3 separate regions of the Homo sapiens genome follow, and all the other regions are linked to region 1. The links come from fine-mapping of genetic effects on gene expression. A gene starts in region 1. Each other region holds a variant in brackets. All regions are shown on one strand. Distances are between the middles of the regions. Region 1 holds the start of CC2D2A (coiled-coil and C2 domain containing 2A). Region 2 holds the start of LOC124900672 (a long non-coding RNA gene). Region 3 overlaps C1QTNF7-AS1 (C1QTNF7 antisense RNA 1).

Region 1 (8,187 bases):
TGTAGCTGCGGTTCCTGCTACCTAGTTCTCCTTTTTCCCAAGATATCTGCATGGCTCTTGCTGTTTCACTTTCTTCAGGTCTCAGCTGAAATTTTATTATCAGAGAGCTCTTCTCTGACCATTCGTAATACAATGATCTCCTCCCAACACCCTCCTGGAATTCCCTAACTACCTTACAATGATTTTTTCACAGTACTTATTACCACTCAACATACATACTTACTTGTTAATGTCAGCCCATATCCATTAGAATATAGCTGCAAGAGGGCAGAAACATTATTTTGTTTATTGTTTACCCCCAGAGACTAGGATTATGGGACATCATGGACATTCAATATATACTTGTCGAATGAATGATTAAGTCACTGACTTATTGGCTGTGGTTCCATAGCCACATTCTGGGACTATTTAAAGCTCCACTGTTTCTTCTAGGCTGCTGTGAGGATTAAATGAGAAAACACATGGAGAAACAACAGGCATATGGCTGACAAATCATAAGCCCTTTCTAATATCCTTGGAACCCAAATCTTAACTGGGACTTGGTCAGGTCATTTAAGCAGCTCATCTGAGATCAAGGTTTCACTGACCCTACAGGGGAATTAGCATGTTAAAGGGAAATAAAGCATCTGAAATTCTATTGTCTTCTCTACAAACCTCATCACAGGGTACAAAAAATAGAGGAAGGAAAATGTAAAAGCAGCTAAGAAAATAGAGAGGCAAGGAGATAACCTAGAGTGAATGAGGGGGCAGATAATAAAGATGAAATGCAAAAGTACATGAGAGCTCTCTAATGAACAACTCTGGTCATTGCAAACTGAAAAAAAAAAAAAACCTGTGAAACATTTTAGTAACTAAAAAAAGTTCTCTATAAGTTAATAAATGCTTTATATGGAAGAAAAAAATAGAAGTAGAAAATGAAAAATGTAATGGGATTTTCTTTTTTCCTCATTCTTTCCTGATCATTTCCTTTAAATGAGTTTCTAAGGAAATCAAATGACACCGAAATTTATTTTTTATATGAACACTGTTGCTAAGAAAAGATAAATCAATACTGCCTGGTTTTAATATGCAGTTTGCCATCATCTTATGCACTGGTACTTGTTAATATATTCCTACTGGCAACATCAAAATAGCTATGATTTACTGCACACTTATTTTGTGCTAACTATAGACATGTTCTCTTTAGTCCTCACAATAACATGTCTGGCTTAGTAGTATGTGCCCCAATTTGCGTATGAGTAAACTGAGGCTCTGACAATTTACATGATTTTTCCAAAGTTATAATTATTAAATGTCACATTCAGAACTTGATCCCAAGACTCTGTGATTCCTGAGTCCTCCCTCACTCCACTCTACCCCTCCATCTCACCATTTATTCTTGCTTTTGCAATGGCATCAATAATTATTCTGTGCTTTCCAGAATAGTGGGCTATTCTGGAAATATTTACAGTTGAAAGCTGTGAAGCATTGCACTGGTGAGAAAAGGCTTAGGCTACATTAAGCCAATGATTTATTTTACTCAGTGCAGAAAACCAGATATATTTTTTCAAGGAAAGTACTGACACCTTCATCTGAATAAATGGACTATTCCTAAGAGTCATCAGTGGGTCAGAGCCATACCTGGAGGTTGAGATACAACGCATCTCAACTCCATATTGGTTGCTTAAAAAATCATACAATATATATGCCCTACTCCAGGATGGCAAAAACATGGGTTTATAGGAAGAGTGGTCCACATATTTCTTTGCCAAGGAATATGTGGACCTGAGTTCCAACTTCAGCTTTATTTATTAGCTGTGTGATCTTGGAACAATGCCCTCCCTTCTCTGAGACACGTTTTTTTTTTTTTTGTCTGCAACATTGCAATCATACTTCCTACCTTGAAGGATGATTAATTTATAAGGGCTAAATGATGAAATGTGTGTAGTAAAATGCCTAGCACAGGCTGGGCTCTCAATATTGGTAGGTTTTGTTACTAAGAAAAAGTGATTGTGGGGAGGGAAAGTGGAAAAAAGGAATGAGGAGGGAAAAGAGCTTGGGGGATAGAAGAGGAGTCATGAGAAAGACCTTAGGTGATGTTCAAGCCCACCCACCTTCAGCTCCAATCTTCAACCCCCAGCTACCATAACTCATGTTTCATGTCTCCCTCCCTTCAGCCAGGCCCAGGGCAGTTGCCTTGCTGTTTCCATTTATGGTGCTTCTGAAACCTCCTGCACTTCTACCCATGAGTATTTTCTTCCTCACACCCTGAGAACATTTTTCTGTTCCCTCCTGGAGCTTGGACACCTGGGGAGGTGCCACATACATTGTTTTGGAATACATTATCTTATTCTACAAGTTATTCCAGCTGCAGTTTCCCTTAGCATAAGGTTAGTGACCAATAGCTTTATAGAATCATTTAATCAGCTCGATATAATGTACACTGGCCTTGAAGAGTACACATGAGTACCATATTTGAGCTGTGTTACGTGATATATGACCAGTGCATTTACATGATGTGCTAAGTACTGGAAGCCCCTCCCTGGATGTCATCCCACTGTCCTCTCAGTGTTTTTATAAATCTCTTATGGCACTTAGCTCATTGTACTCTTATCATGTGTTTATAGGTCTGTTTTCCCAGCAAATTCTGAGCTTCTGACCTAGTCTAATTTATGTTTGCACACTCTAAACTTAAATTCATTGCCTGGTGCATTGTTGATGCTCCATAAATGTTTGAATGAATGACTCTATAAGTGAGCTCTAGGATATATATATATATATATATATATATATATATATATATATATATAGAGAGAGAGAGAGAGAGAGAGAGAGAGAGAGAGAGAGAGATTTCATGCTGGTGCTGAATTTATTTGCAGAAAAGGTTATATGAAAATGCAGTAGCAAACATATTTCTTATTTGACTTTATTAGCTTTTCATACCACCTCTTTGCAATGAAGGGAAACAAACAATCAGCTTAAGTTGTAGCCAGTACATTTTCTTGAAGTCTTTGGAAAGCACAGCAACTCTTAGCACTGTGGTTAGTAGCCCTTTCTCTGTCTCATACCAAGAAAAGTGTATTTTGCAGTAATTAGTGCTTCTCCCCTTAAGCCAGTTTGAACTAAAAGGCCCATAAATGCAACACGCAGCTAATGTTTCACAGAGCTTTGGTCAGAGAGCATTTTCACTCAGGACTTGTGATGAACTGGACTTACATTTCCTGCAAACCAGATACCAGATAGCAGCTCAAATCAAAGCTGCCAAGTAATGGTCTATGTTCCCATTTCAGAAAGTAAAAACATAAATAACGATGAGAGCCCCTAAATTTACAATTCATTAAATCCAGTCTCACGGTATCCTGGAGAGGCTGAACTTCAAGCCGGGTAACTGAAAACAGGAAATCACTGTTGCAGCCTAAAGTCCGGTTAGGGACTGATTTACCTTAAGAAACTTTACAAAAGGCACTTTGCAGATTCTGCATTCTAGGATGGAAGTGGAGAGAGACGGTGCTGTTGAATCTTTTAAAAGGGTCCGGAGGGAAAGGCTGAGTGTTGGAGATGCCCCTGGGCTCCTCCCTGGGAAGCTGCAGCCATGTCTTGGAGCAAAAACACCAGCTTAGCAACCCGTTCCTAAGGAAGGTCACTCGGTAGCTTTTTTTTTTTTCCTTTAAAGTGACAGGCTACTTCCAGTAGTGGAGTACAAGCATGCTGGGTAAGCAGAGACGCACAGCCTGCAGTAGAAGGACGGAGAGAAATCAACATGAGCAGCACTGGAAATTAGGTCAAGCCTTAAGAGCTGCCCCTCCCTCATGTCATCCGGTCGTCTTGCATTTCCAATGAAGAACAGGCTCAGAGGTGGGGGGATTTAGAATCTTAAAAGGTCGTCATTACATGGTGAAGCTGTCTAACGTGGCAGCAGCAAAAGCTCTGTGGAGGTGCTGCAGAGTACCAACAAATGTTGCACTTGAGTGTTTTCCAGTTAAAAGTGGAAGGTTGAACGCACAAGTTTAATCTTTGCCTATTCTCTGAATCCCACTGCAATTCCTGAAAACGGATATAAATGTTATGGCTCAAAAAAGTTGGAAAAAAAAAAAGAGGGAGAGGTAGGAGGCAAAGTAGCTGGAAGAGTAATAGAATGAATGGAGCCAAGGAAACACACTCCAATAGACTAGTGTGTATGTGCACATGTGTTTGTGTGTATTTGTGTCTGTGTGTATGGTGTGTGTATGTTTGTGTGTATGTGTATTGACTGTATCTTCTTATTTTCTGTATTCTTGATGCTCTGGCATTTGGAGCCTTGATCCTGGAGAAACTGATTCTCCTATGTTAGCTAATTTCTAGAGATAGCAAATGATTCCCCTGAAATATGCAAAGTCTCCTTTGATATACAAGCCAACCAATCCAGAGCCCACACAACCATCTCCATTATCAAACTCTCACACACTAAGCCAATATTCCTCCTGTCCTAAGTCACCCCAGGTCCAGATACCAGACCACTATAGCCCAGAGAACACCACGATTATTCAAGCTATCCACTCCTAAATTTATGCAGCACCCTACCCTGCTTCACCTATTCCTTCCTGGGAAAACCCTAGTAAAGGCTCTGTGCTGTACTCTGCTGTCTCCGTTCTGCCTTCTGACCAACATTGGTTCTTCCCTATGTGGTCCTGTGTGGCATGCCATGTTCTATGATTTGAATGTGTCTTCCCAAAAGCATGTATTGGAAACTTAATCCCTAACACAATGGTGTCGGGAGGTGGCACCTAATGAGAGGCAATTAGGCTGTAGGGCTCTGCCCTCATAAATGCATTAATGCCATTATTGCAGGAGTGGATTCCTTATAAAAGAATGAATTTGGCCTCGTTTTCTCTCTTTCTCTTTCTTGCTCTCATGTTTTCTTGCCTTGCACCATAGGATGGTGCAGCAAGAAGACCCTTGCAGGATGCCAGCCCCTTGATCTTGGACTTCCCAGCCACCAGAACTGTGAAAAATAAATTTCTGTTCATTATAAATTGCCCAGTCTGTGTATTCTGTTACAACAACAGAAAACGAACCAAGACACCATGCTTCTTGTTTCTAGGGATCTGTTAAGTATAAACTTCTTCTTTTGTGCCAATCATGTTTGTGTCTGTGTGTCTTACCATACCTAATTAAAACAAATCCAGAGTACATTTTTTGACACAGCCTGCATGCATGTGTATGTGTCAATGTATTTGTGTTTGTGTCTCTGTACGTGTATGTATGTGTGTGTGTGTCTGTGTATGATGGGGTGTGCACGTAGGCATGAATATGAGGAAATGAGCTGATTTACTGTGCCAGGATTTGGGGCAGCAGTGTTATAGCTGAATTGTGTTCTCTCTCATCCCCAAAGATGCTGAAGTCCTAACCTCAGTATCTCAGAATGGGACCTTATTTGGAGATAGGGTATTTACAGAGGTAATCACATTAAAATGAAGTCATTAGAGTGAGATCTAATCCAAGATGATTGCGTCCTTACAAAAGGGGAAATTTGGATTCAGAGACAGACAAAATAGAAGAAAGGCAACGTGAAGACATGGGGAGAGCACCATCTCCAAGCCAGGGAACACTCAAGGCTATCAGCAGCCAGGAGAGAGGCCTGGAACAGACTGTCTCTTGAAGCTTCACAAAGAATCAACCCTGCCACACCTTGATTTCAAATTTCTAGTCTCCTGAATTGTTAGAAAATTTCTGCTGTTTAAGCCACTCAGTGTGTGGTACTTTGTTACAACAGCATCAGGAAACTAATACAACCATAGACTAAGGAAGGTGGGGAGAGATACGGGGCTAAAAATGCAGGAAGATTTGAAAGTCTGTATATTAAGGGATTGATCCTCAGGATCCTTTTTCTTGGCAGCCTGAAAAATGCCCATTCCTCAGGCATAATTTCCGTCCTCCACATCTGCCTCATCTGCTGCTGCCCAAAGGAGACTGGCGGTTTCTTTTCTAGGGAAGTTAAACCAGAGACTCTCTGGTCTCAAGTTCCCAGGTACTGCAGCAAGTGAGTGTGTCTCAGGATTGAAAACTGTATATGAAATGAAGATGTTGCAGGGCCCTTTCTGAACCTTTCTCAAGAACTTAGACAATCAAGAACATGCCATTGGCTCCCCCATCCTACCTCTACCTGCACAAAACTGGAGAAAGTAGAAAATTATTTTCTGGAAAAACTGAATGATTATAAAGCACAGACCCTACATACTGACATTTCTGGATCCTCCAATGACAAAGCTAGCATATTGCCCTTACAGAAAAGCATTACAAAAAACATTAAAGGATCTCAGGCTAGGAAATTTAATGCTTGTAGTTATAAAAAGAGAGAACCATGAAAATGGAAAAGTATAATTTACCAAAGGAGTAATACAAGAACAACTGTATGAAATAATGTATTTTCCAATTGAAGGGGACAATCTACTATCTCGTGCTGGTAAAAGAAGACAATAAGAAAACTTGTCTGTCTTGGCTTGTATTCTGCATGTGGTGAGAAAAATATGAAGAATTTACAACCATTGGTTTGCACCATGCAGTTTGTCTTATTTATGCTCCTTATATATTTTAGGAGGCCCCTAAGTGATAACTTTTAAAAAGTGGCCTCTGTCTACTGTATCCCCGTGGGGTGCCAGGCAGAAGTTATTACAAAACTTTTCTGGAGGAACACACCTTCAATTGGACAATTCAGGATGTCCACAAATAAACACAGAGGAAGATGAGCTCACAACCCAAAATTAGACAACAGAAGAGAAACACTCAAGAGTCCACAGACAAACCAGAGGACACTATTAGATACTCAAGAGTTTCTTGCAATACAATAATCAGATGGAGAGTGGAAAAATAACAATGACCAAATATTCAAGAAGATACAAGGAGGATTTGAAAATATGAAAGAAGAGTGAGACACTATCAAAAAGATCAGACAAATTCAAAAAGTAACCAGATAGAACTTTTAGAAATAAATAATACAGTCACAAATTTAGATAAAAGTCAAAGAATGTGCTAAACTGTAGATGAGAGAGCTGAAGAGATGCAAAAGATAGGTTTAAAAAATTGAAATGTGGCACAGAGATATTGAAAATAGGAAAGAGTAGGTAAAAGATACAGGGAGAAATTGATGAGGTCCACCATATCCAGTACAGTACCAGAAGGAGAGGAGAGAGAAAGAAGTTGAATGCTCTGTCTTACAACTGAGGGATCTCGGTCAACTTTCTTAACCTTTCTAGGTTTCAGTTTCCTTCTCTGTAGGAAACTGAGGTTTAATAATAGTAACTATTCCAGAGAGAGTTGTTAGGAAATTTGTTAAGTTAATAATTGTGAAGCACTTAGGACAGTCCTGGCACATAGTAAATGTTGCAAGGTTTATTAAGTGAAGAAAAATATGAATGTTTACCGTAAGAGATTATCTACTTGAAATGGTCAGCTGCCATGAGAGGAAGGACTTGTTCACCACTCTTTTGCTAATTAACCGTCTGATTATTACCTCCCTGATATTTTAAAAGTCTCATGGTCTGCCAACAGAGCTAGCTGGGCACGTCCTCTTTGATCTTTAATACTGAACTAATTCATAAGAATCATACAACTTCTTAAGTTCCAAAAATATTAAAAAGTATCATTGCAAAACACCATTACTTGCAAAAGTTCTTATGTAAGCAAAATAAATGAATCTAGCAAATTTATTTTAAATCATAACACAAAAATCTCATTCTTTTGGTTAAGTGTTCCTAGTTGGCTAAAGAGTTTTTCATCAAGAATAAATGTTGAATCACATTATCACAAGCTTTTTTCTACATCTTTTGAGATAATTAAATATTATTTTTATTCTTTCATCTATTAGTGTAGAGAATTGCATTATCAGGCATTTTAATGTCAAATTGTGCTTGCATTCCTGGGATACACTCAATTTTGTCAAGATACTTCAAAAATTAATATTGGATTTAATTACCACTTTCTAGAAATTTTTGCATTTATGTTCTTAGCTGAGATCAGCCTTGTATTGTTCTTGTCTCATTTTAGGATAAAGGATAGTCTAACCTCAAAAAAAAAAAAAAAAGCAGACTAATATTTCTCTCTCACTCATCTTTGTAACAGTTCAAGTAAAAATAGCTTTATCATTTCTGTGAAGTCTATACAATTGTCTGGGTCTAATAAGTTTTTTAAAAATTATGGTAAAATGTGTATACATGAAATTTGCCATTTTAC
Region 2 (8,187 bases), 41 kb before region 1:
GTTCTGGAGATGAGGCATCCTTATACACTAGCCATATTTCATGACAAGGTAAGTGACGATGTCTAAGCTGAACAAGAAAATAAAAAGAGCAAGTACCTGTCTGCCTACTGGGTATGAAGAGCATTTCTCTTTCCATCTGCAGCCGATCATGGATGCTTTCATAATCTGCAGGTCTGACTGCTACAAAATCGTCAGCCACGTGATCTAAGCCCAATAGGAAGTCCTCGGCATCATCACCATTAAGCAGTTCTTCCTCATCCTGCATAATGTTAAAAAGTAACAAGAAAAAATCATGCTAAGATTCTTAGTTAGAAAAATAATTCACAATACCAAACTCATGAAACTTAACATTTCCTACAACTTTATCTTTTCCTTTTTTTAAAAAAGTGAAAGCATAGAACTATATAACCTTTCATATTTAACAAGTGGGTTTTTAAAAAAATTGTTTTGCAGTATTCTGCACACCTGGAAGATGTCAAAATCAGAGATGGCTGTTTCAGAAGAGAAGTGGTAAGCAAAACAATCAAAATCCCAACAAATCTGGCCTCCTATGAGACTGCTTGCTTCTTGCCATTTATGTAAAGAATTGGGCTCATAATTTATGTAGCAGTTTAACCTTCCACCTGGCACTAAACCAAGGGAAAAGGCACCAAGTGTATAGGTGCACAGTCCACACACCCTGTTCAGACTGCCTGGGTTTAAATCCCAGCTTCACCATATACTGCCTGAGGAACTTGAAACAGCTTATTTAACCTTCTGATCCTCAGTTTCCTCACTTATAAGATAGTTATAGTAATGGAGTTTACCTCTAAGCACTTTGTGGGGATAAAATTAAATGATACACTTAAAAATTCAAAGCAAAGAGGCTATAATCACAAATGTTAGCTGACATATATTGATTTTGTTTGGATATTTTCTAAACGTCTTCTCTTCCTTCCTCTTCTTTTTCTTTCTCCTTCTCCTTCTTTTAAAAATTTAAACCTGGTGTCCATTTATGAGCAACATCTTTTAAAATCCTGTGGAGACTTTCAGGTAGCTAAAGACAATGATGGCAGTCTAGCTACCTGCCTCTTAAGATTTCCTCCCCAAGTACACAAAAGAATAAGAAGGAAAAAGGGAATCTATGTAGAAACCATGCTTTTAACTTAACTTGAAGACAGAGAATGCCAAAACATCAAACAAGTGAAAAGAGAAAGATCACCAGATGGCAGTGTGTAATCTTCCTTCTCCTGCCCCACCTCTGCTTCGTGGTGAGCAAAATCACCCAGAGAAAAACTGCAGAGAAGACAGAAAAGGGGAGCTAGCGAAAGGGGCTACAGAGGATCTAAAACTTTGTTCAAAAAGGCTAAATGAACCTTGAAGACGAAAATACTTTAAAAGTGTCTGGGCAGAGCAGAGCATGGACTATAGGGAAGGGCTTCCAAATGTGTGTGATTTAAAAGAGCAGTTTTAGGAACAGAGCTTCTGGGGCAGTGAATAGGCAAAAGGAAGGGAGAAGTGGCCTTTGGAGGAAAGTGCCATAATTTCAGAAGATATTCGCAATTGGAGACTTCTATCTTCAACAGGTGAAGCCCAATTCTCCTCCATTTGAGAGTGCACTACGTCTCGTGACTTGCTTCTCCTGAGTAGAATATGGCAGAAGTGACAGTATGTGGCTCCTGAGACTAGGTCATAAAAGGAACTGTGGCTTCTTTTTTGGGTTCTCCCCTAGATCACTTGCTTTTGGGAAGTTAGCTGTCATGTCAGGAGGACACTCAAGCAATGTTGAATGGCCTGAATGCTGATTTGTAGAATGATTGTTATAGAATAAGCTAAAATATTCCCAAGCTTCTGTAGATCTAGGTAAAAAAAGTACATTTCCGGGAGGCATTTTTCAAGGGAGGAGATTGTAAGTGAAGCACAGAAGTATGCCAATTATGTGAATACTAGAATATCCTAGTGTGTTTTCCTTATTTTTAATGTGGTAAAATATATATAACATGAAGTCCACCATTTTAACCTTTTTTTTTTTTTTGAGACAGAGTCTTGCTTTGTCATCTAGGCTGGAGTGCAATAGCGCAATCTCGGCTCACTGCAACGTCTGCCTCTCGTGTTCAAGTAATACTCCTGCCTCAGCCTCCTGAGTAGCTGGATTACAGGTGCCTGCCACCACACCCAGCTAATTTTTGTAATTTTAGTAGAGACAGGGTTTCACCACGTTGGCCAAGCCTGGTCGTGAACTCCTGACCTTAGGTGATCCGCCCTCCTCGGCCTCCCAAAGCTGGGATTACAGGCCACCGCACCCGGCCCATTTTAACCATTTTTAGGTGAACAGTTCAGTGGCATTAAGTAAATTCATATTGTGATTCTACCCTTACCACCATCCATCCATCTTCCCAGACTGAAATTCTATACCCATTAAACATTCCCTCCTTCCTCTAACCTCTGACAACCACCATTCTACTTTCTGTCTCTATGATTTTGATGATACAATGTAGCTCATATAAGTGAAATCACACAATATTTATTCTTTTGTGACTGGCTTATTTTTCTTAGTGTAATGTCTTCAAGGTATATCTATGTTGTGGCATGTGTCAGAATTTCCATGCTTTCTGCGGTTGTATAATATTCCATTGTATATTTATGTTTATCCATTTATCTTCCGATGAACACTTGGGTTGCTTCTACCTTTTGGCTTTTGTGAATAATGCTGCTATGAACATCGGTGCACAAGTATATGTTCAAATTCTTGTCTTCAGTGTTTTTGGATATATACACAGAGTGGAATTGAATTGCTGGATCATATTGTAAATCTGTGGTTAACTTTTGAAGGACCACCATACTGTTTTTCACAGCAGCTGCACTGTTTTACATGGCTACAAGCAACGCACCAAAGTCCAATTTCTCCATATCCTCTATAACACTTATTTTTTGATAAGCGCCATTCTAATGGATGTGCAGGGGTATCTCATTGTGGGTTTGATTTGCATTTCCCTTATGATGATTGGTGTTAAGAATCTTTTTATGGGCTTATTGTCTATTTGTATGTCTTCTTTGAAGAAATGTCTATTCAATACCTTTGCCCATTTTTAAATGGCTTATTCTCCTTTTATCTCACACATACCACCCACAGTTGCAGAATTTGAGTTGTAGCCTGGGTGTGGTGTTTGGGCACAAAATGCTGCTTACTTTGTAAGGTTGTGGTAAGAGAGAGACCAAGATTTCATTTGCCTTGCAGAGGAACATATTTTGCACATGGAATAAATACTAATCATTACGTGGAGTCTAGCAAGAAAAACCCTCAAGCCACATTATTTAATTCTTTTTTCCACAAAAGAAAAATAAACAGGTTTAATCAAGGTTCTTCCTACCACATTGTAGGGTCTAACCCAGAGCTACAGGGAGCCATGTGAATTCAGTACTTGGGATTTCAACTCAGACGTGGAGTGTCATTCTCCTGGTGGTGGCAGGTTTCTCCTCAGCCACTTTCTTTCTTGCAGGGACATCAGCTTTTTCCTCCTAGCCCTCCACCCACACCTCATTACCATCCTGATATTAAATACCATTTCCTTTCCTCCTCCTTGTGCAGGTGGTTCTTCTTCTTCCCCTTCCTCCTCCTCTTGATTAGTTCCCGCTCTATGTCTTGCTTTTGGTTTTTCCTCTGATCCTTCTGGTTCGGGATCAAAGTTGAAAGTAAAGAAGTTATAGGCCTCTTCTGCAGAAGGGAAGCCAGGTGGAACCTAACGAAAAGCAAGGAGCAATCG[C/A]AATTTCCCATTTATAAGCTGTAATGCGCTCTGCACAATTAACTGACAGCTGGCTTAATGCTAATGAGATCAGGCATATTCCAGGCCTCCGAAGCATATTGTCTTAGTTAAAGGTGTGAGACTACTGGTAATAAACTTTAATATCTGCCACAGGCAGTTGGAGGCCTCCTTTAATAGTAACTCTAATTAGTGACTTTAAAAAACCCCAGCAATTATTTACATTCCAACAAGTAAATACATATTTATAGCAGTAAACACTTTAGATAAGATTATTAAAATGACAAACAGTGGATTTATTGTTTTATTGGCCAATGCTGAGATAGTTTTGTTGTATTATGAGAAATATAGAATTTTTAAACAAATGACCTTTTTTTGTTGTTTCTCTTTTGGAGTTAGTACTCTCCTTTTTTCCTATAATGAAAGCCGGGGCAACTTCAGAGCTGAACAAACTGTCTTATCACCAACATTTCCTGTCTTTCCATGCACTCCCTCATCCTCAAGTCAGGCAATATTCTGATCTCTCCAGTTAGTATGAAAGTTGGAATCACTTCTCATACTTTTTTCTTGCAAACTGCATGGCAACAGGAGTCAGGTTATATATGTAGTCATTTATTTATTTTTAATTAAGAGATGAGGTCTCACTCTGTCACCCAGGCTGGAATGCAGTGGCACAATCATGGCTCACTGCAGCTTCGACCTCATGGGCTCAAGTGATCCTCCCATCTCAGCCTCCCAGGTAGCTTGGACCACAGGTGTGTGCCACCATGTCTGGCTAATTTTTGTATTTTTTGTAGAGATGGGGTTTCGCCATGTTGTCCAGGCTGGTCTTGAACTCCTGTGCTCAATATATCTGCCTGTCTTGGCCTCCCAAAGCGCTGGGATTGCAGGCGTGAGCCACCACACCCGGCCTGTAGTCATGTGTCATTGGATATTTGTAAAAAACACAAACAAACAAATGATTTTAAAAAACAAGATTTCTCACCTGGGGTTTAGGCTTGATTTTTCGTGCAGAATCATGGAACTTGACTCTTGAGTAACTTTGGGAGTCAACTTCTTGTTGAGTCCTTTCTACCTCTTTCCCTGGCTATATGAGTGGAAAAAAATGATAGATAAACCATTTAACCCAAGAAACTTAGGCTGTTCTAAAATGAAGGTTAACCCCCCCATCCCAAAGGCTTATCTTCTGACTGCTGCTGCATCTTATCATTCCTAAGGCATGGAATGCTGGCAAATTTCAAATGCAGTCATGCGCTCCATAGCGACAGCCTGTAGAACTGCATGCATGACGGAGGTCTCATAGACTATAAATACGGTATTTTTACTGTACCCTTTTTATGTTTACATAAAAAAATACTTACCATTGTGTTACATTGCTATGGTATTTAGAAAAGTAACATGCTCTTCAGGTTTGCAGCCTTGGTGTGTAGTTGGCTATGCCATTTAGGTTTGTGTAGGTACCTTCACACAATGGGTTCACACAATGACGAAAATGCCTAAGAACACATTTCTCAGAACATATCCCCATCACTAAGTGATGCATGACTGTATATTTGAAGGTTGATGTTGATATTTTCTTACTCAACTCGTCTCTCTCAAGACTGAACAAATGTAAAATTGTATACTCAATAAGCTTTAAAATGAAAACTGTTGTCCAGATGCAGTGGCTCATGCTTGAACTCCCAGCACTTTGGGAGGCCGAGGTGGGCAGATCACCTGAGGTCAGGAGTTCAAGACCAGCCTGGCAAACATAGTGAAACCCCACCTTTACTAAAAATACAAAGTTTAGCCAGGCGTGGTGGCGGGCGCCTGTAATCCCAGCTACTGGGGAGGCTGAGGCAGGAAAATCCCTTGAACCTGGGAGGCAGAGGTTGCAGTGAGCTGAGATTGCAGCACTGCACTCCAGCCTGGGAGATAGAGCAAGACTCCATCTCAAAAAAAAAAAAAAGTGTTATCTCATCCTATAAATTAAGATTATCCACTTCACAGAGGATCATTTCCAAACAGTCTATAAAGAAAAACATTGATAATGTCTGATTGTAAGTAAGTCCAACACACATCCTCCAGGGTACATGGCCTGTCCTCACTGAACCTCTGGTCCTGCTATCCACCCTGGGAAGCTGAGCCCTCTGTCTCTACTTGCTCTATGTGATAGTTATCATATGGGTATTCCCTTTTGCCTCTGAAAGCTAATCTGCAAGGTGCTGTTTCCAACTTCTTACCCATCTCTCCTTCTAATCCACCCCTTTTAAAACCCAGATACTCCTCCTTTTTCATGAAGCACAATCTAAATGTCAAGCAATTTTGAGCAATTCTAAGCCATCCCAGTAGCACATATAGGTGTTCATGGCAAGAAGGAACATACTTATTCTACCTATGACAGAAACTTGATCATTATTATATGGACAGAGAATTATTTCACAGCATGGAATAACTGTCACCCAACAACAGTCATGTAGTGTGCCATCTTCACTGGGGACCTTCAATATATCCTTCCCAAGTCCTACCTGTTCCTCAAGACCACACAAAGCTACTTCCTTTCTCCATCCTAAAATGAACTCTCTTTTTGGAATCAAATTGTCTGATTCATATCAGGCACTGTCTTGTAGAGCTTGGCAGTTGAAACCATAGGCTCTAAAGTCTGACTGCCTGGCTTTGAATTTTAACTGTACCACTTACAACTTAGGCCACTTGAGTAGAGCATCAAATAAGGAAATGTACATAAAATATAACCAGTCAGGTGCATTAATGGTAGCCATTATTATCATATTACTAGCTTTTTCTTACATGTCTTTTTTTTGGTCTATAGTTTGTATTCATATGATACGACTAAACATTTTAGTTTAGCCCATGGGAAACCAGAGCCTGTGGCAAGGGTTTTTCTGTGCCTGTAGTTGACTCTGAGAAGTGACACCAAAGAACAGGAACTGGGGACTGGGAAGAATAAAGCAGGTGGAAAGTGAGTGCAGGAGAACTTGATTGACAAGGCTACCACTGTGGGCAAGAGAGTTTAACCCACAGGGATCCTCTGAGGAGTCACGTAGACTGCTTCTCAGAATTGTCCACCAGGGACACAGAAGAGGGGAATATTTGTCTAATGGCTTCTGTCCCCCAGGTGGTTGGAGGGGCTCAGAAACAGATGGCCCAAAATATGGTGCTTTGACATGCTGAACTGAAGAAGAAGCCTCAAGTTCTCTCTGACCTCCCCTACCCTGGATGCCAAATTCCCTATCTCTCCTAAAGCACAGGATGAGGTTGTTCTCTGAAGTTCCCTTAGCTGCCTGAGTCCAAACCTGCCAAAGAAGAAAACAGTGACCTTTGGTCCCTCTCCTGAGTGTTCATTAACTGTACCCATATCGCAGGAAGAAAGACTGAAGTCCATCAACACACTTGGACAGACTTTAGTCAAAAACCATTGTCTGCTCTGCGGGCCCAACAGACTTTGTCCGAGGCCACTGTTACGTTCTCCAAGCCCATTGAATTCCCCTAAAAATCATTTTCTACTTGCTAAAATCACCCACACTTCTCCATCTCTCTTTCCTCTAGGATGAAGGGTACGTAATTATCTTTACTCCTTGCACACTAATAAATGTGTATGCCTTTTCTCCTATTAATCTGCCTTTTGTCAGCTGATTTTCAGTGAACTTTCAGAGGGTGACAAGGAAGTGTCCCCTTGGCCTCTACATAGTTGGTGCTTCCAGTCTTGCATATGTGTCAGAATACATGAGTGGGCCTCCGCAAGCCTTCTGGAGAGGAAGGGATACCCTGGAATGAAACCTGGAGGTACAGCTAAAGTGAGGTGCTGTCAAATTTCACTTAGGTGCAGCTAGATGTCCAGTAATGGCCAGAATAAAAATGAGGGTGTCAGTTGGGTATAATCTATCATAATATCAAGCAACTGTATACAGTTTCCTTTTATGTTGAATTCTATACTTCTCCTTCATTTTCTCATTTTGTAGTGTTAAGGTTAAATAGTTATCTACCAACTCAATTGTACAGAAGTTGAAGCTGTGCTAATCAATACATTCCACAATGCAATGCTAAATGAAGTTATTATTTGTCTCAGTATTTTAAATGTTTTTGAGGATGAGGAAAGAAGCAGATGAGTATTACCCAGTGTAAGGATTTTTTTTTCTTTTTTTTTTTTTGAGATGGAGTCTCGTTCTGTCACCCAGACTGGAGTGCAGTGGCATGATCTCAGCTCACTACAACCTCTGCCTCCCGCGTTCACGAGATTCTCCTGCCTCAGCCTCCTGAGTAGCTGGGATTACAGGCACCCTCCACCAAACCCGGCTAATTTTTTTTTTTGTATTTTTAGTAGAGATGGGGTTTCACTATGTTGGCCAGACTGGTCTCGAACTCCTGACCTCGTGATCCGCCCGCCTCAGCCTCCCAAAGTGCTGGGATTACAGACGAGAGCCACCGCACCCGGCCTAGGATTTTTAAA
Region 3 (8,187 bases), 48 kb after region 1:
TTCAGTAGAGAGCAAACAAAGAGACCTTGTAGAGACAAAATCTAGTGAGGAAGAGAGATATTTATGAAATAATCACAGAACTGTGCTTAACAGGATATGAATTGGGAATTCCCATCCACTTGGAATTTCAGCTGAGAACACAAAGCAGAGAATGATAGGCAACCAATGCTCATACATCGACTTAGAACTTGTTAAAATCCAGCTGGATCTGACAGTGACCATCAGCCATTTTCAGTCCACATAAAAGAAAGCTAGAAATTCAGAAAAGATTAGTGGTTGAAGAGAGGCATCAAGGTAGAGTTGTGGAGAAGGGAGAGGAGTGCAGGGGCAGCTGTTAGAGAGGCAAGAATATATGCACTCCCCAAGAGGGAGATGGTACTGAGGAAGGCAGCTGAGTGGGGCCATCGTGATGGGACTTCCTGAGCCAAGGAGTCCTCCTAGTGGGGGGAGGCCACTAAGAAGTCACTGGGTGTATCACTGAGTACAGAATCTGAGGCTGGTGGGGGGAGCACTGCAAGCTATCAACCAAGGAACACCTTCACCCCGAAAGAGCCAGCATTTGGCTACCTGGAGTGCATAGCAGACATTGGAGCCAGGAGAGGATCATACAAGTAGCACTTACTAAGTAAGAATAATTCAGTCACTTTTTTCCTGATTATTCTACTCTCTGACCTGACTCAAGAGGAGCTGAAAGTGAAAGGAAGTGGCAGGAGATGGGGGAAGAGTGAAAGGGTACAGCATATCCTGAACTACAGCCATGGAGATGGACAAGTATTGTATTGGATATAAAATAGAAAATTTGATTGAGATTTGTCTTTTTAATATCTGAAAATGAGTCACAATTGACTAATAAAATTGTTCATGTAACTGGAAGTTACCAGAAAGCCAAGAAATTTGCCTGAGATGTCATAAAAGGGCAGGGAAGAAAGATCCAACAGAATTTGGCTAGAACAAATGATGGAAGAAAAATGAGGTTATTTTTTATTCATTTCATATTAAGGACAGTTAATACCATTTGATAAACTCAATAAGTTTTGGAGAATGCTTGAAGGAAAAAAATAAAGGATATTGTGGAGTGTTTAGCCGGACAACCCAGTTGAATCTTGCCTAAAGAACTTGCCTAAATAAGAGAGAACTTGCCTAAAGGAATGACATCTGACCTAAAAGGGGGGGAAACGGTAGGCATGAACCTGGCAGAAGGGCAGGAAAACACATCCAGGCTGAGAGAATGTCATATGCAAAGGCCCTGAGGTGGAAGAGGATGATGCTGAGTGGAGGCCAGTGGGAAAGAGCAAAGGCAGGCATAAGCCTGCAGGGAGGATGTGCCTGGGCCAGGCGGGGCTCTGTTGGCCACGGGAGGTTTTGGTCCTTATCCTGGGGTCAGTAGGTTCCTCAGAAGGGCTGTGAGTGGGATTTCATGAACCAGGCTGTTGACCAGGTAGAGGTGGTGCCTGCTGCCGCTTTCCTGGCTTTTCAAGCGGACTTCAACCAGCTGAAATGACTCAGTTTGGTTTCTAAACTGAATCTGCTTTCATTGCAGGGAAAGAGGTGGGTTCTTATGAGAAAAGGAGTTTGCATATTTAAAAAAGGCAATTCAGTGACTCATGGAATGAACAAATGTCATTGACCCCTGTGTGTGCCAGGCACTGTGCTGGGCCCTGAACATACAGCTTGAAAGCGAAGACAGGATCTCAACTCACAGTTCTTACACTGCACTGGGAATTTCACACTGTTAGAGAAGAAGGGATCTCAGAGGTTATCTGCTTGAGTTTCCTGTTTCACAGATAAAAAGCCAGATTCAGTAAGAAGTGACTTGCCCAAATAACCTATTTATGCTAAACCAGAACTGGAACTCAGGTCCCTGCAGGGTGGCCAAAAGAGTCTTTGCTCTACAGCCTTCACTGATACCTGGTTTCTACTTCACATGTAGAAGACAATCCAGTGTTTTAATCTACATAAATATCCATCCTTGTGGATAAATGTGAATTAACAATATAGCATTATCCCAGATCATAATACTTTACCTTGTCCAAAATATCACTTCTCATATTTTAAAACGTAAAAAACTTAAAAACTTATAGAAAGTTGGCCAGACGTGGTGGCTCATAACTGTAATTCCAGCATTTTGGGGGGCTATGGTGGGAAGATCGCTTGAGACCAGCCTGGGCAATATGGCAAAACCCCATCTCTACAAAAATAAATAAATACATAAAAAAGAAATAAAAAACCAGCCATTGCTGGAGTGCATGTATAGGCACATCTACTCAGAAGGCTGAGGTGGGAGGATGGCTTGAGCCCGAGATGTTGAAGCTGCAGTGAACCATGTTTGCACCACTGCACTCCAGCCTAGGTGACAAAGCAAGACCCTTTCTAAAAAAAAAAAATTATCGAAAGTTTTAAACATATTAAAAAACAGAGATCAAGTAGATAATGAATTTCCATGTACCCACTGAGCTATTTGGAAATTTAGCATTGAATGGACAGGAAATAATATTAGATGAAATAATGTTAGGTTAGGGTAGATATTAGATGAGAATGCATTTTCCCTGATCCTTTGGTCTTCAGGAGGAAGGATTTTCCAAGTAAGCTCTTTTCCTTCCTCACCTCTTGATTTATTCTGCCCTGGGGAAAATAGGATGAATTATCAGATAGGCAAATATGAAAAGAATAACTAGGCATGTTCAGGTCAATGAACTGGAGATAAAAAATCTGCCAAATCCCAAGGAATCTGGATTAAGAAGCTCCTTTGCTGTCATATCTGTGCAATATCCTTTTTTTTTTTTTTAAAAAAAAACAGGTTTATTAGATTATAATTATTAAAATGTAAAATTTACCCTTTTGGTATTAATAGTTTCGTGATTTTTGGCCAATGTATGCAATTGTATAACCACCACTAAAAAAGAGATACAGAGCATTTCCATTCCCTCCAAAATGTTCCCTTATGTCCCTTTGTAGTCAGTCTCCTCCACCCCAGCTGCCTGCAACCTCTGATCATATATCTGTCCTGTAATTTTGCCTTTTCCAGAGTGTCATATAAATAGAATCTTACAATATGTGGGTTTTTGAGGCTCTGTTCTTTCACTTAACATAATGTTTTTGAGAGTCATTCATGTTGCATGTTTCTTTCATTGCTGAATAGTATTCCATTGTACGGTTGTACCACAAATTTTAAATATCTATATCTATATATTTATTAACCATCTACTATGTGCTACCTACAGTGAGTCCTGACCACTTAGCGAAGTAGGTATTATTATCTCCTTATTACAGGTGTGGAAACTGAAGTTTCTAAATGAGAGAACTGGCCCAAGGTCACACAGCTACTGAGTGATAGATTTGGCATTCAAACCCAGATTTGTCTGACCTTCAAACCAAGCTCTCGGTTTAGGATGAGGAGAGTGATAGTACTTGGCTCCTTGGATTGTTGTAAAAATTAATTGAAATAATCCCCAGAAAATGAGTCCCTGTTGCCTGGCACTTCGTGGGTGCTCCGTAAATATGAAGTGGGTGAACAGTGCTGACATAGCTGCCGCTGCTCTTACCATTGACCTTTGGCTACTGTTCTTTGGTAAGTGCCATTGACTATCCTGGGTTCTCTATGCTCCTCTTGTTTGCACCTGAAAACCATCCGAAGGCCAGAGACCTGGAAGCAATGCCTCCACTCAATGATGCAAACCACTCCAGCCACAGAATGTTGAGAGTGTCTTTGTGACATTATGTAGGCATAAAAATAGTGGTGATTGTAACAATATTGTGCTAATACCTTACATTTATTATTTAGTAGAAAAAGCTCTTCAACTCTCTTTTTTTTTCAGTCATCTCGGTCTATTTGAACATTTTGGTGTTTCTAAACGTTTATCCGGATAATGGGGGGCCCATGTTCTCTACTTTGTTTATTGCTAAAAACATGTGAGGCATTTTGTGGGGAGGGTGCCTGAGGACATGAGCCAAGTTCAGGGTCAAGAGCTATATTAGACCCAACAAAGGCAAAGATTTAGCGGCAGGTGGTGCCTCTTGCATACATATTCACTTCCAGCCAAAACAATGTCCTCAGCAGACTCCATCACATTGGAGCGAGAGCTGGGAAATCCAACAATGACTCAGTGTGCTGGGGAGGAAAGCTGAGCACTGAGGTTTGGTAAAAAAAAAAAAAAAAAAAAAAAAAAAAAGACAAAGCAGTGGAATGTTACCCTAGAGTCTAAACTAGCAGAAATCTTCATGTCTTCTCCCTTCCCACTGACATTTCTTTGTGGAGTAAGACTGCTGACTTTGAAGGACAAAGTCATCATTGTCCAGCCATGTGACCTTGGGCAAATTGCCTTGGGCAAAAGACTCTGAGGATTACCCCTCTGAAACCTTAGTGTTCTCTTCTATAAATTGAAATTTTAAAAATATCCAAATGAAGTAAGGTTGTTATAAAGTTTGATGAAGTAATGCATCTTGTTGACTGACACATTTGTGCTACTCAAACTCAAAAAATGTTGATTTCTGTTGGTGCAGGGAGGAGCAGATTTAAGTTAGAGGCATTCCTTTTTCTTTCAATAGTGTTTAGAGTTTACGTTCTTGTTGGGACTAGGAAATGCATGTCTTTGGATGCACTTTAGATCTGTGTTTTCAGGATAATCTCATCTACGTGATCAGAAACACTCTCCTTAGGGACTGAACT[C/T]CTAAGCAATTTCTTGAAAACTGAAGGTTGACTGTAAGGTGTCTGAGAAAATAAGTGCCAGGATGGAATAAGTAGTTTTTTCATGGAGAGCTAATGGTTTCAGTGAAAGCCTGGCATTGAGAGAGAACAAGGCACCTTGGAGAGTGAGAAAGCTGGGGAGGCTGGAGAAGAGTGAGGAGGAAGAAGGATGGGGGGTGGAGCCCGTTGCGGAGGCTGTGGATATTGAGGCTAAAGCTTTCTTGGGGAACTTAGACTTTATCTTCAGGGCATTAAGAAGCCAGTGAAGAGTTTGCCAGTGATGAGAATCGTATGTGACTCCTATTAATAGATAGATTTCTTGGACTGCTATCTGGAGAAAGGATGGGAGGCAGCAAAAATGAAGCACACTTGGGCAAAGATAGGTAAGAAAACCACCCCACCACTGGCAAGGATTCTAATATAGTGGGATTCTAGAAGATTAGGCACAGATTTGGTTTGTTTGGTTTTTGTTTGGCCGTGTGTGTGTATGTTTGTGTGTGTGTGTGCATATATGTATGTGATTTCCTTCTAATATTTTTCCTATTCATAGTATATACACTTTTTGATCAAAATACATATGCTATTTTTTTAACCTCATATATTATCTATTCTTGTCCTATGGAACTATTTGTATTTTATTTTAAATATACGCTCACGAAATATCAGGAGGAAAAGGTAGGAAAACAAGAGTAAATCATTATTTATTTAGTTCTATTTCTCAGAACTATACCACTGTTACCACTTTAGTTTCTTTCTTTCTGTTATTTTTGTTCTCTCTGTGTATGCATAGGTCTTCTGTTCAAAGATTTGTAATAGTACCTATACACTGTTGCTGTGTGCTTTTTCTTTAACCTAATATTATATCATAAGTGTTTTTCCCCTGTTATGTTTTGGAGCCATTAATGGCCAAACGATATCCATCAAGTAGTTGTACAATAATTTATTTAACCCCCTTCTCTCCTATTAGGGGACAATTAAGCTGTTTCTATTTTTTCCTAGTATAAATGAGATTACATTGAAAGTTTTGTGCATAAGCCTTTATCCCTATTTAGGATTATTTCCTTAGGATAGATTCCCAGAAATGGAATTATTGGATCAAAAGGTCTGTATGTTTTATGTCTTTTTTGGTACATGCTGCCAAACTGCTTTCCAAAAGGTTGTGTGAATTTACACTGCCTTGTCCCTGTATAAAAACAAAATCCTGGGGAATGTAAGTTCCCCCACAGCCAGGCACCTTTTGTCCCTGGAACACAGACGGAGCCACAGAATCTCAGATTTGGAAGTAACTTTAAAGGTTAGTGAAGCTAACCTCTGCTGTGAAGAGAACGTCAAAGCTTGTTCCACAATGGTATTGGCATTTGTGCCATTTTTGTGTTGGGTGGCATCTCAGTGGTCATTTTGCATAAATGCCCCCAATTCCCTACACAGTCTCAGCCAGGGGCTCTGGGCAGACTCTGTGCTGAGGGCTCTGCATACACCAACTCAGTCTTTCTACAACCACAGGAGAAGGTTACTGTTATTATTCTTTGCATTCTTCAGATGGAAAAACAGGCAGAAGAGGTAAATAACTTGCCTGAGGCCATGTGGTCTTAGGACACTTAACTACTGTATTTTACTACCTCTTTTTAGTAAATACCTATATAACTAAAGAGAGATAAGCACTACAAAGGAGAAGAGGGGTTGGTGAAAGAGATTGAAAAGAGTGCCTACTGTGGTTTGGGAGATCAGCGAAAGTCACTCTAAGGATGAGATACCTGGGGATACCTGAGGATGACTTAGCCAGGTGAAGATGGGATAAAAGCCTCACAGGGAGGGAGAACAGTATGTGAGAGGGCCCTGGGGCAGGAGAGGACTTCGGGAATTATAGTAACTGAAAGGACAATGGGTTGGAACTTATAAGACAAAATGGCCTGTAAGAAAGGAGGTCAGAAAAATAGTAGGGGTCAAGTCATTTCAGGGCCTGAAGAGGTTGGCTTTTATCTTAACAGCAATGGGGTTCCATGAGAGGGTTAGAGGAGAACATGATCTTTGTTGTGCATAAAACGATGATGGAGAAGGTATTAGAGAGGGCTGGGGAGGGGAGGTGGGAGCAAGTTGGGAGGCTGATGCAGCTGAGTGGGCAAAGATGATCATGGCTGATCACTGTGGCTACAAAGGATAACGAGAGAAGTGGAGAGATTTTCAACAAACTTTTGTTTAAGAGCTGATGGGTAAGATGTAGCCTCTTACAGGAAGCCTTTTGGGCACTTGTCCATGCGGGCTCATCCTGACGAACCTTCTCTCTGGTCCCATGGTAATCCCCAGTGTTGGAGATGGGGCCTGGTAGGAGGTGTTTGGGTCATGGGGATGGATCCTTCATGAATGGCTTAATGTTGTCCTTGCAATAGTGACTGAGTTCTTGAGAGATCTGGTTGTTTAAAAGTATGTGGCACCTCTTCCCTTCTCTCTCCCACTTGATCCATGTGGCCCATTTCCTCCTTTGCTTCCCGAGGCTCTCACCAGAAGCAGATGCCAGCACCATGCTTTTTATACAGCTTGCAGAACTGTGAGCCAATTAAACCTCTTTTCTTTCTTTCTTTTTTTGAGATGGGGCCTTTCTTGATCATGGCTTACTGCAGCCTTCAACTCTTGGGCTAAAGCCATCCTCCTACCTCAGCCTCTCAAGTATCTGCAATCACAGGTGTGTGCCACCATATTTGTAGAGACAGGTTCTCACTATGCTGCTCAGACTGTTCTTGAACTCTTGGACTCAAGTGATCCTCTTGCCTTGGCCTTCCAAAGGCATGGAATTACAGGCATGAACCACTGTGCCTGGTCTCAACCTCTTTTCTGTATAAATTATGCAGCCTCAGGATCTCTTTATAGCAATGCAAGAATAGACTAACATAGTCACATGTTTCATGAGTCATTTTATATTAAATGTTCAGAATAGATAAATCCATAGACACAGAAAGCAGATTGATAGTTTTCAAGGGCTCAGGGGAGTGAGAAATGGGGAATAGCTGCTTAGTAGTATGGGGTTCTCTGCTGAAGTGATGAAAATGTTTTGGAACTTGATATAGTTGGTGGCTGCACAAGATTGTTAATGTTCTAAATGCTGCTGAATTGTACATTTTAAGGTGGTTCATTCTACATTATGAGAGTTTCATTTCAATAAAAAAATTTTAAAAGTATACATGGGAATGAAATGCACTAGTTTCAGGTCCTCATTTGTTAACTGAAGGACAGAGAAAGAATAAAAGGTGGGTATTTAGCTAAATTTATAATTTTTTAAATTTCTTTATAACATAAAAGATCTGGAGGAAAAGAAAAACTATCACTACTTGGGCTATCCCTGAAAAATCTTTTGTATAGGGAAATAAAGCTAAGACTAGAGAGAATGCAATAGACAAGCAAGAAGGTAGTGTTGGCTGTTGGCTGCACTTCAGCTGATTTTTCTTTCAACTGAAGCCTCTGACTTTTAACATAAGAGGAAGGACTTCAAGGTCATGAGACTCAATTTG

The links.
Region 2: its variant is fine-mapped to the expression of CC2D2A in whole blood (TOPMed, PIP above 0.99).
Region 3: its variant is fine-mapped to the expression of CC2D2A in whole blood (TOPMed, PIP above 0.99).

The regions. Positions count from the first base shown.
Region 1 is chr4:15,465,292-15,473,478 of GRCh38, reverse strand. CC2D2A (coiled-coil and C2 domain containing 2A) reads right to left here and starts at 3,597. Exons shown (of 37, transcript NM_001378615.1): 1 at 3,422-3,597.
Region 2 is chr4:15,506,779-15,514,965 of GRCh38, reverse strand. It overlaps CC2D2A (coiled-coil and C2 domain containing 2A), which reads right to left. Exons shown (of 37, transcript NM_001378615.1): 7 at 4,726-4,827; 8 at 3,543-3,719; 9 at 97-259. LOC124900672 (a long non-coding RNA gene) reads left to right here and starts at 259. Exons shown (of 2, transcript XR_007058062.1): 1 at 259-510; 2 at 6,856-7,354. The variant C/A (reference allele first, on the strand shown) is at 3,744.
Region 3 is chr4:15,416,809-15,424,995 of GRCh38, reverse strand. All of the region lies in intron 1 of C1QTNF7-AS1 (C1QTNF7 antisense RNA 1), which reads left to right. It also overlaps a transcript of C1QTNF7 not described here. Among named protein-coding and RNA genes, the nearest start is that of C1QTNF7-AS1, 7.0 kb to the left of the region's middle. The variant C/T (reference allele first, on the strand shown) is at 4,667.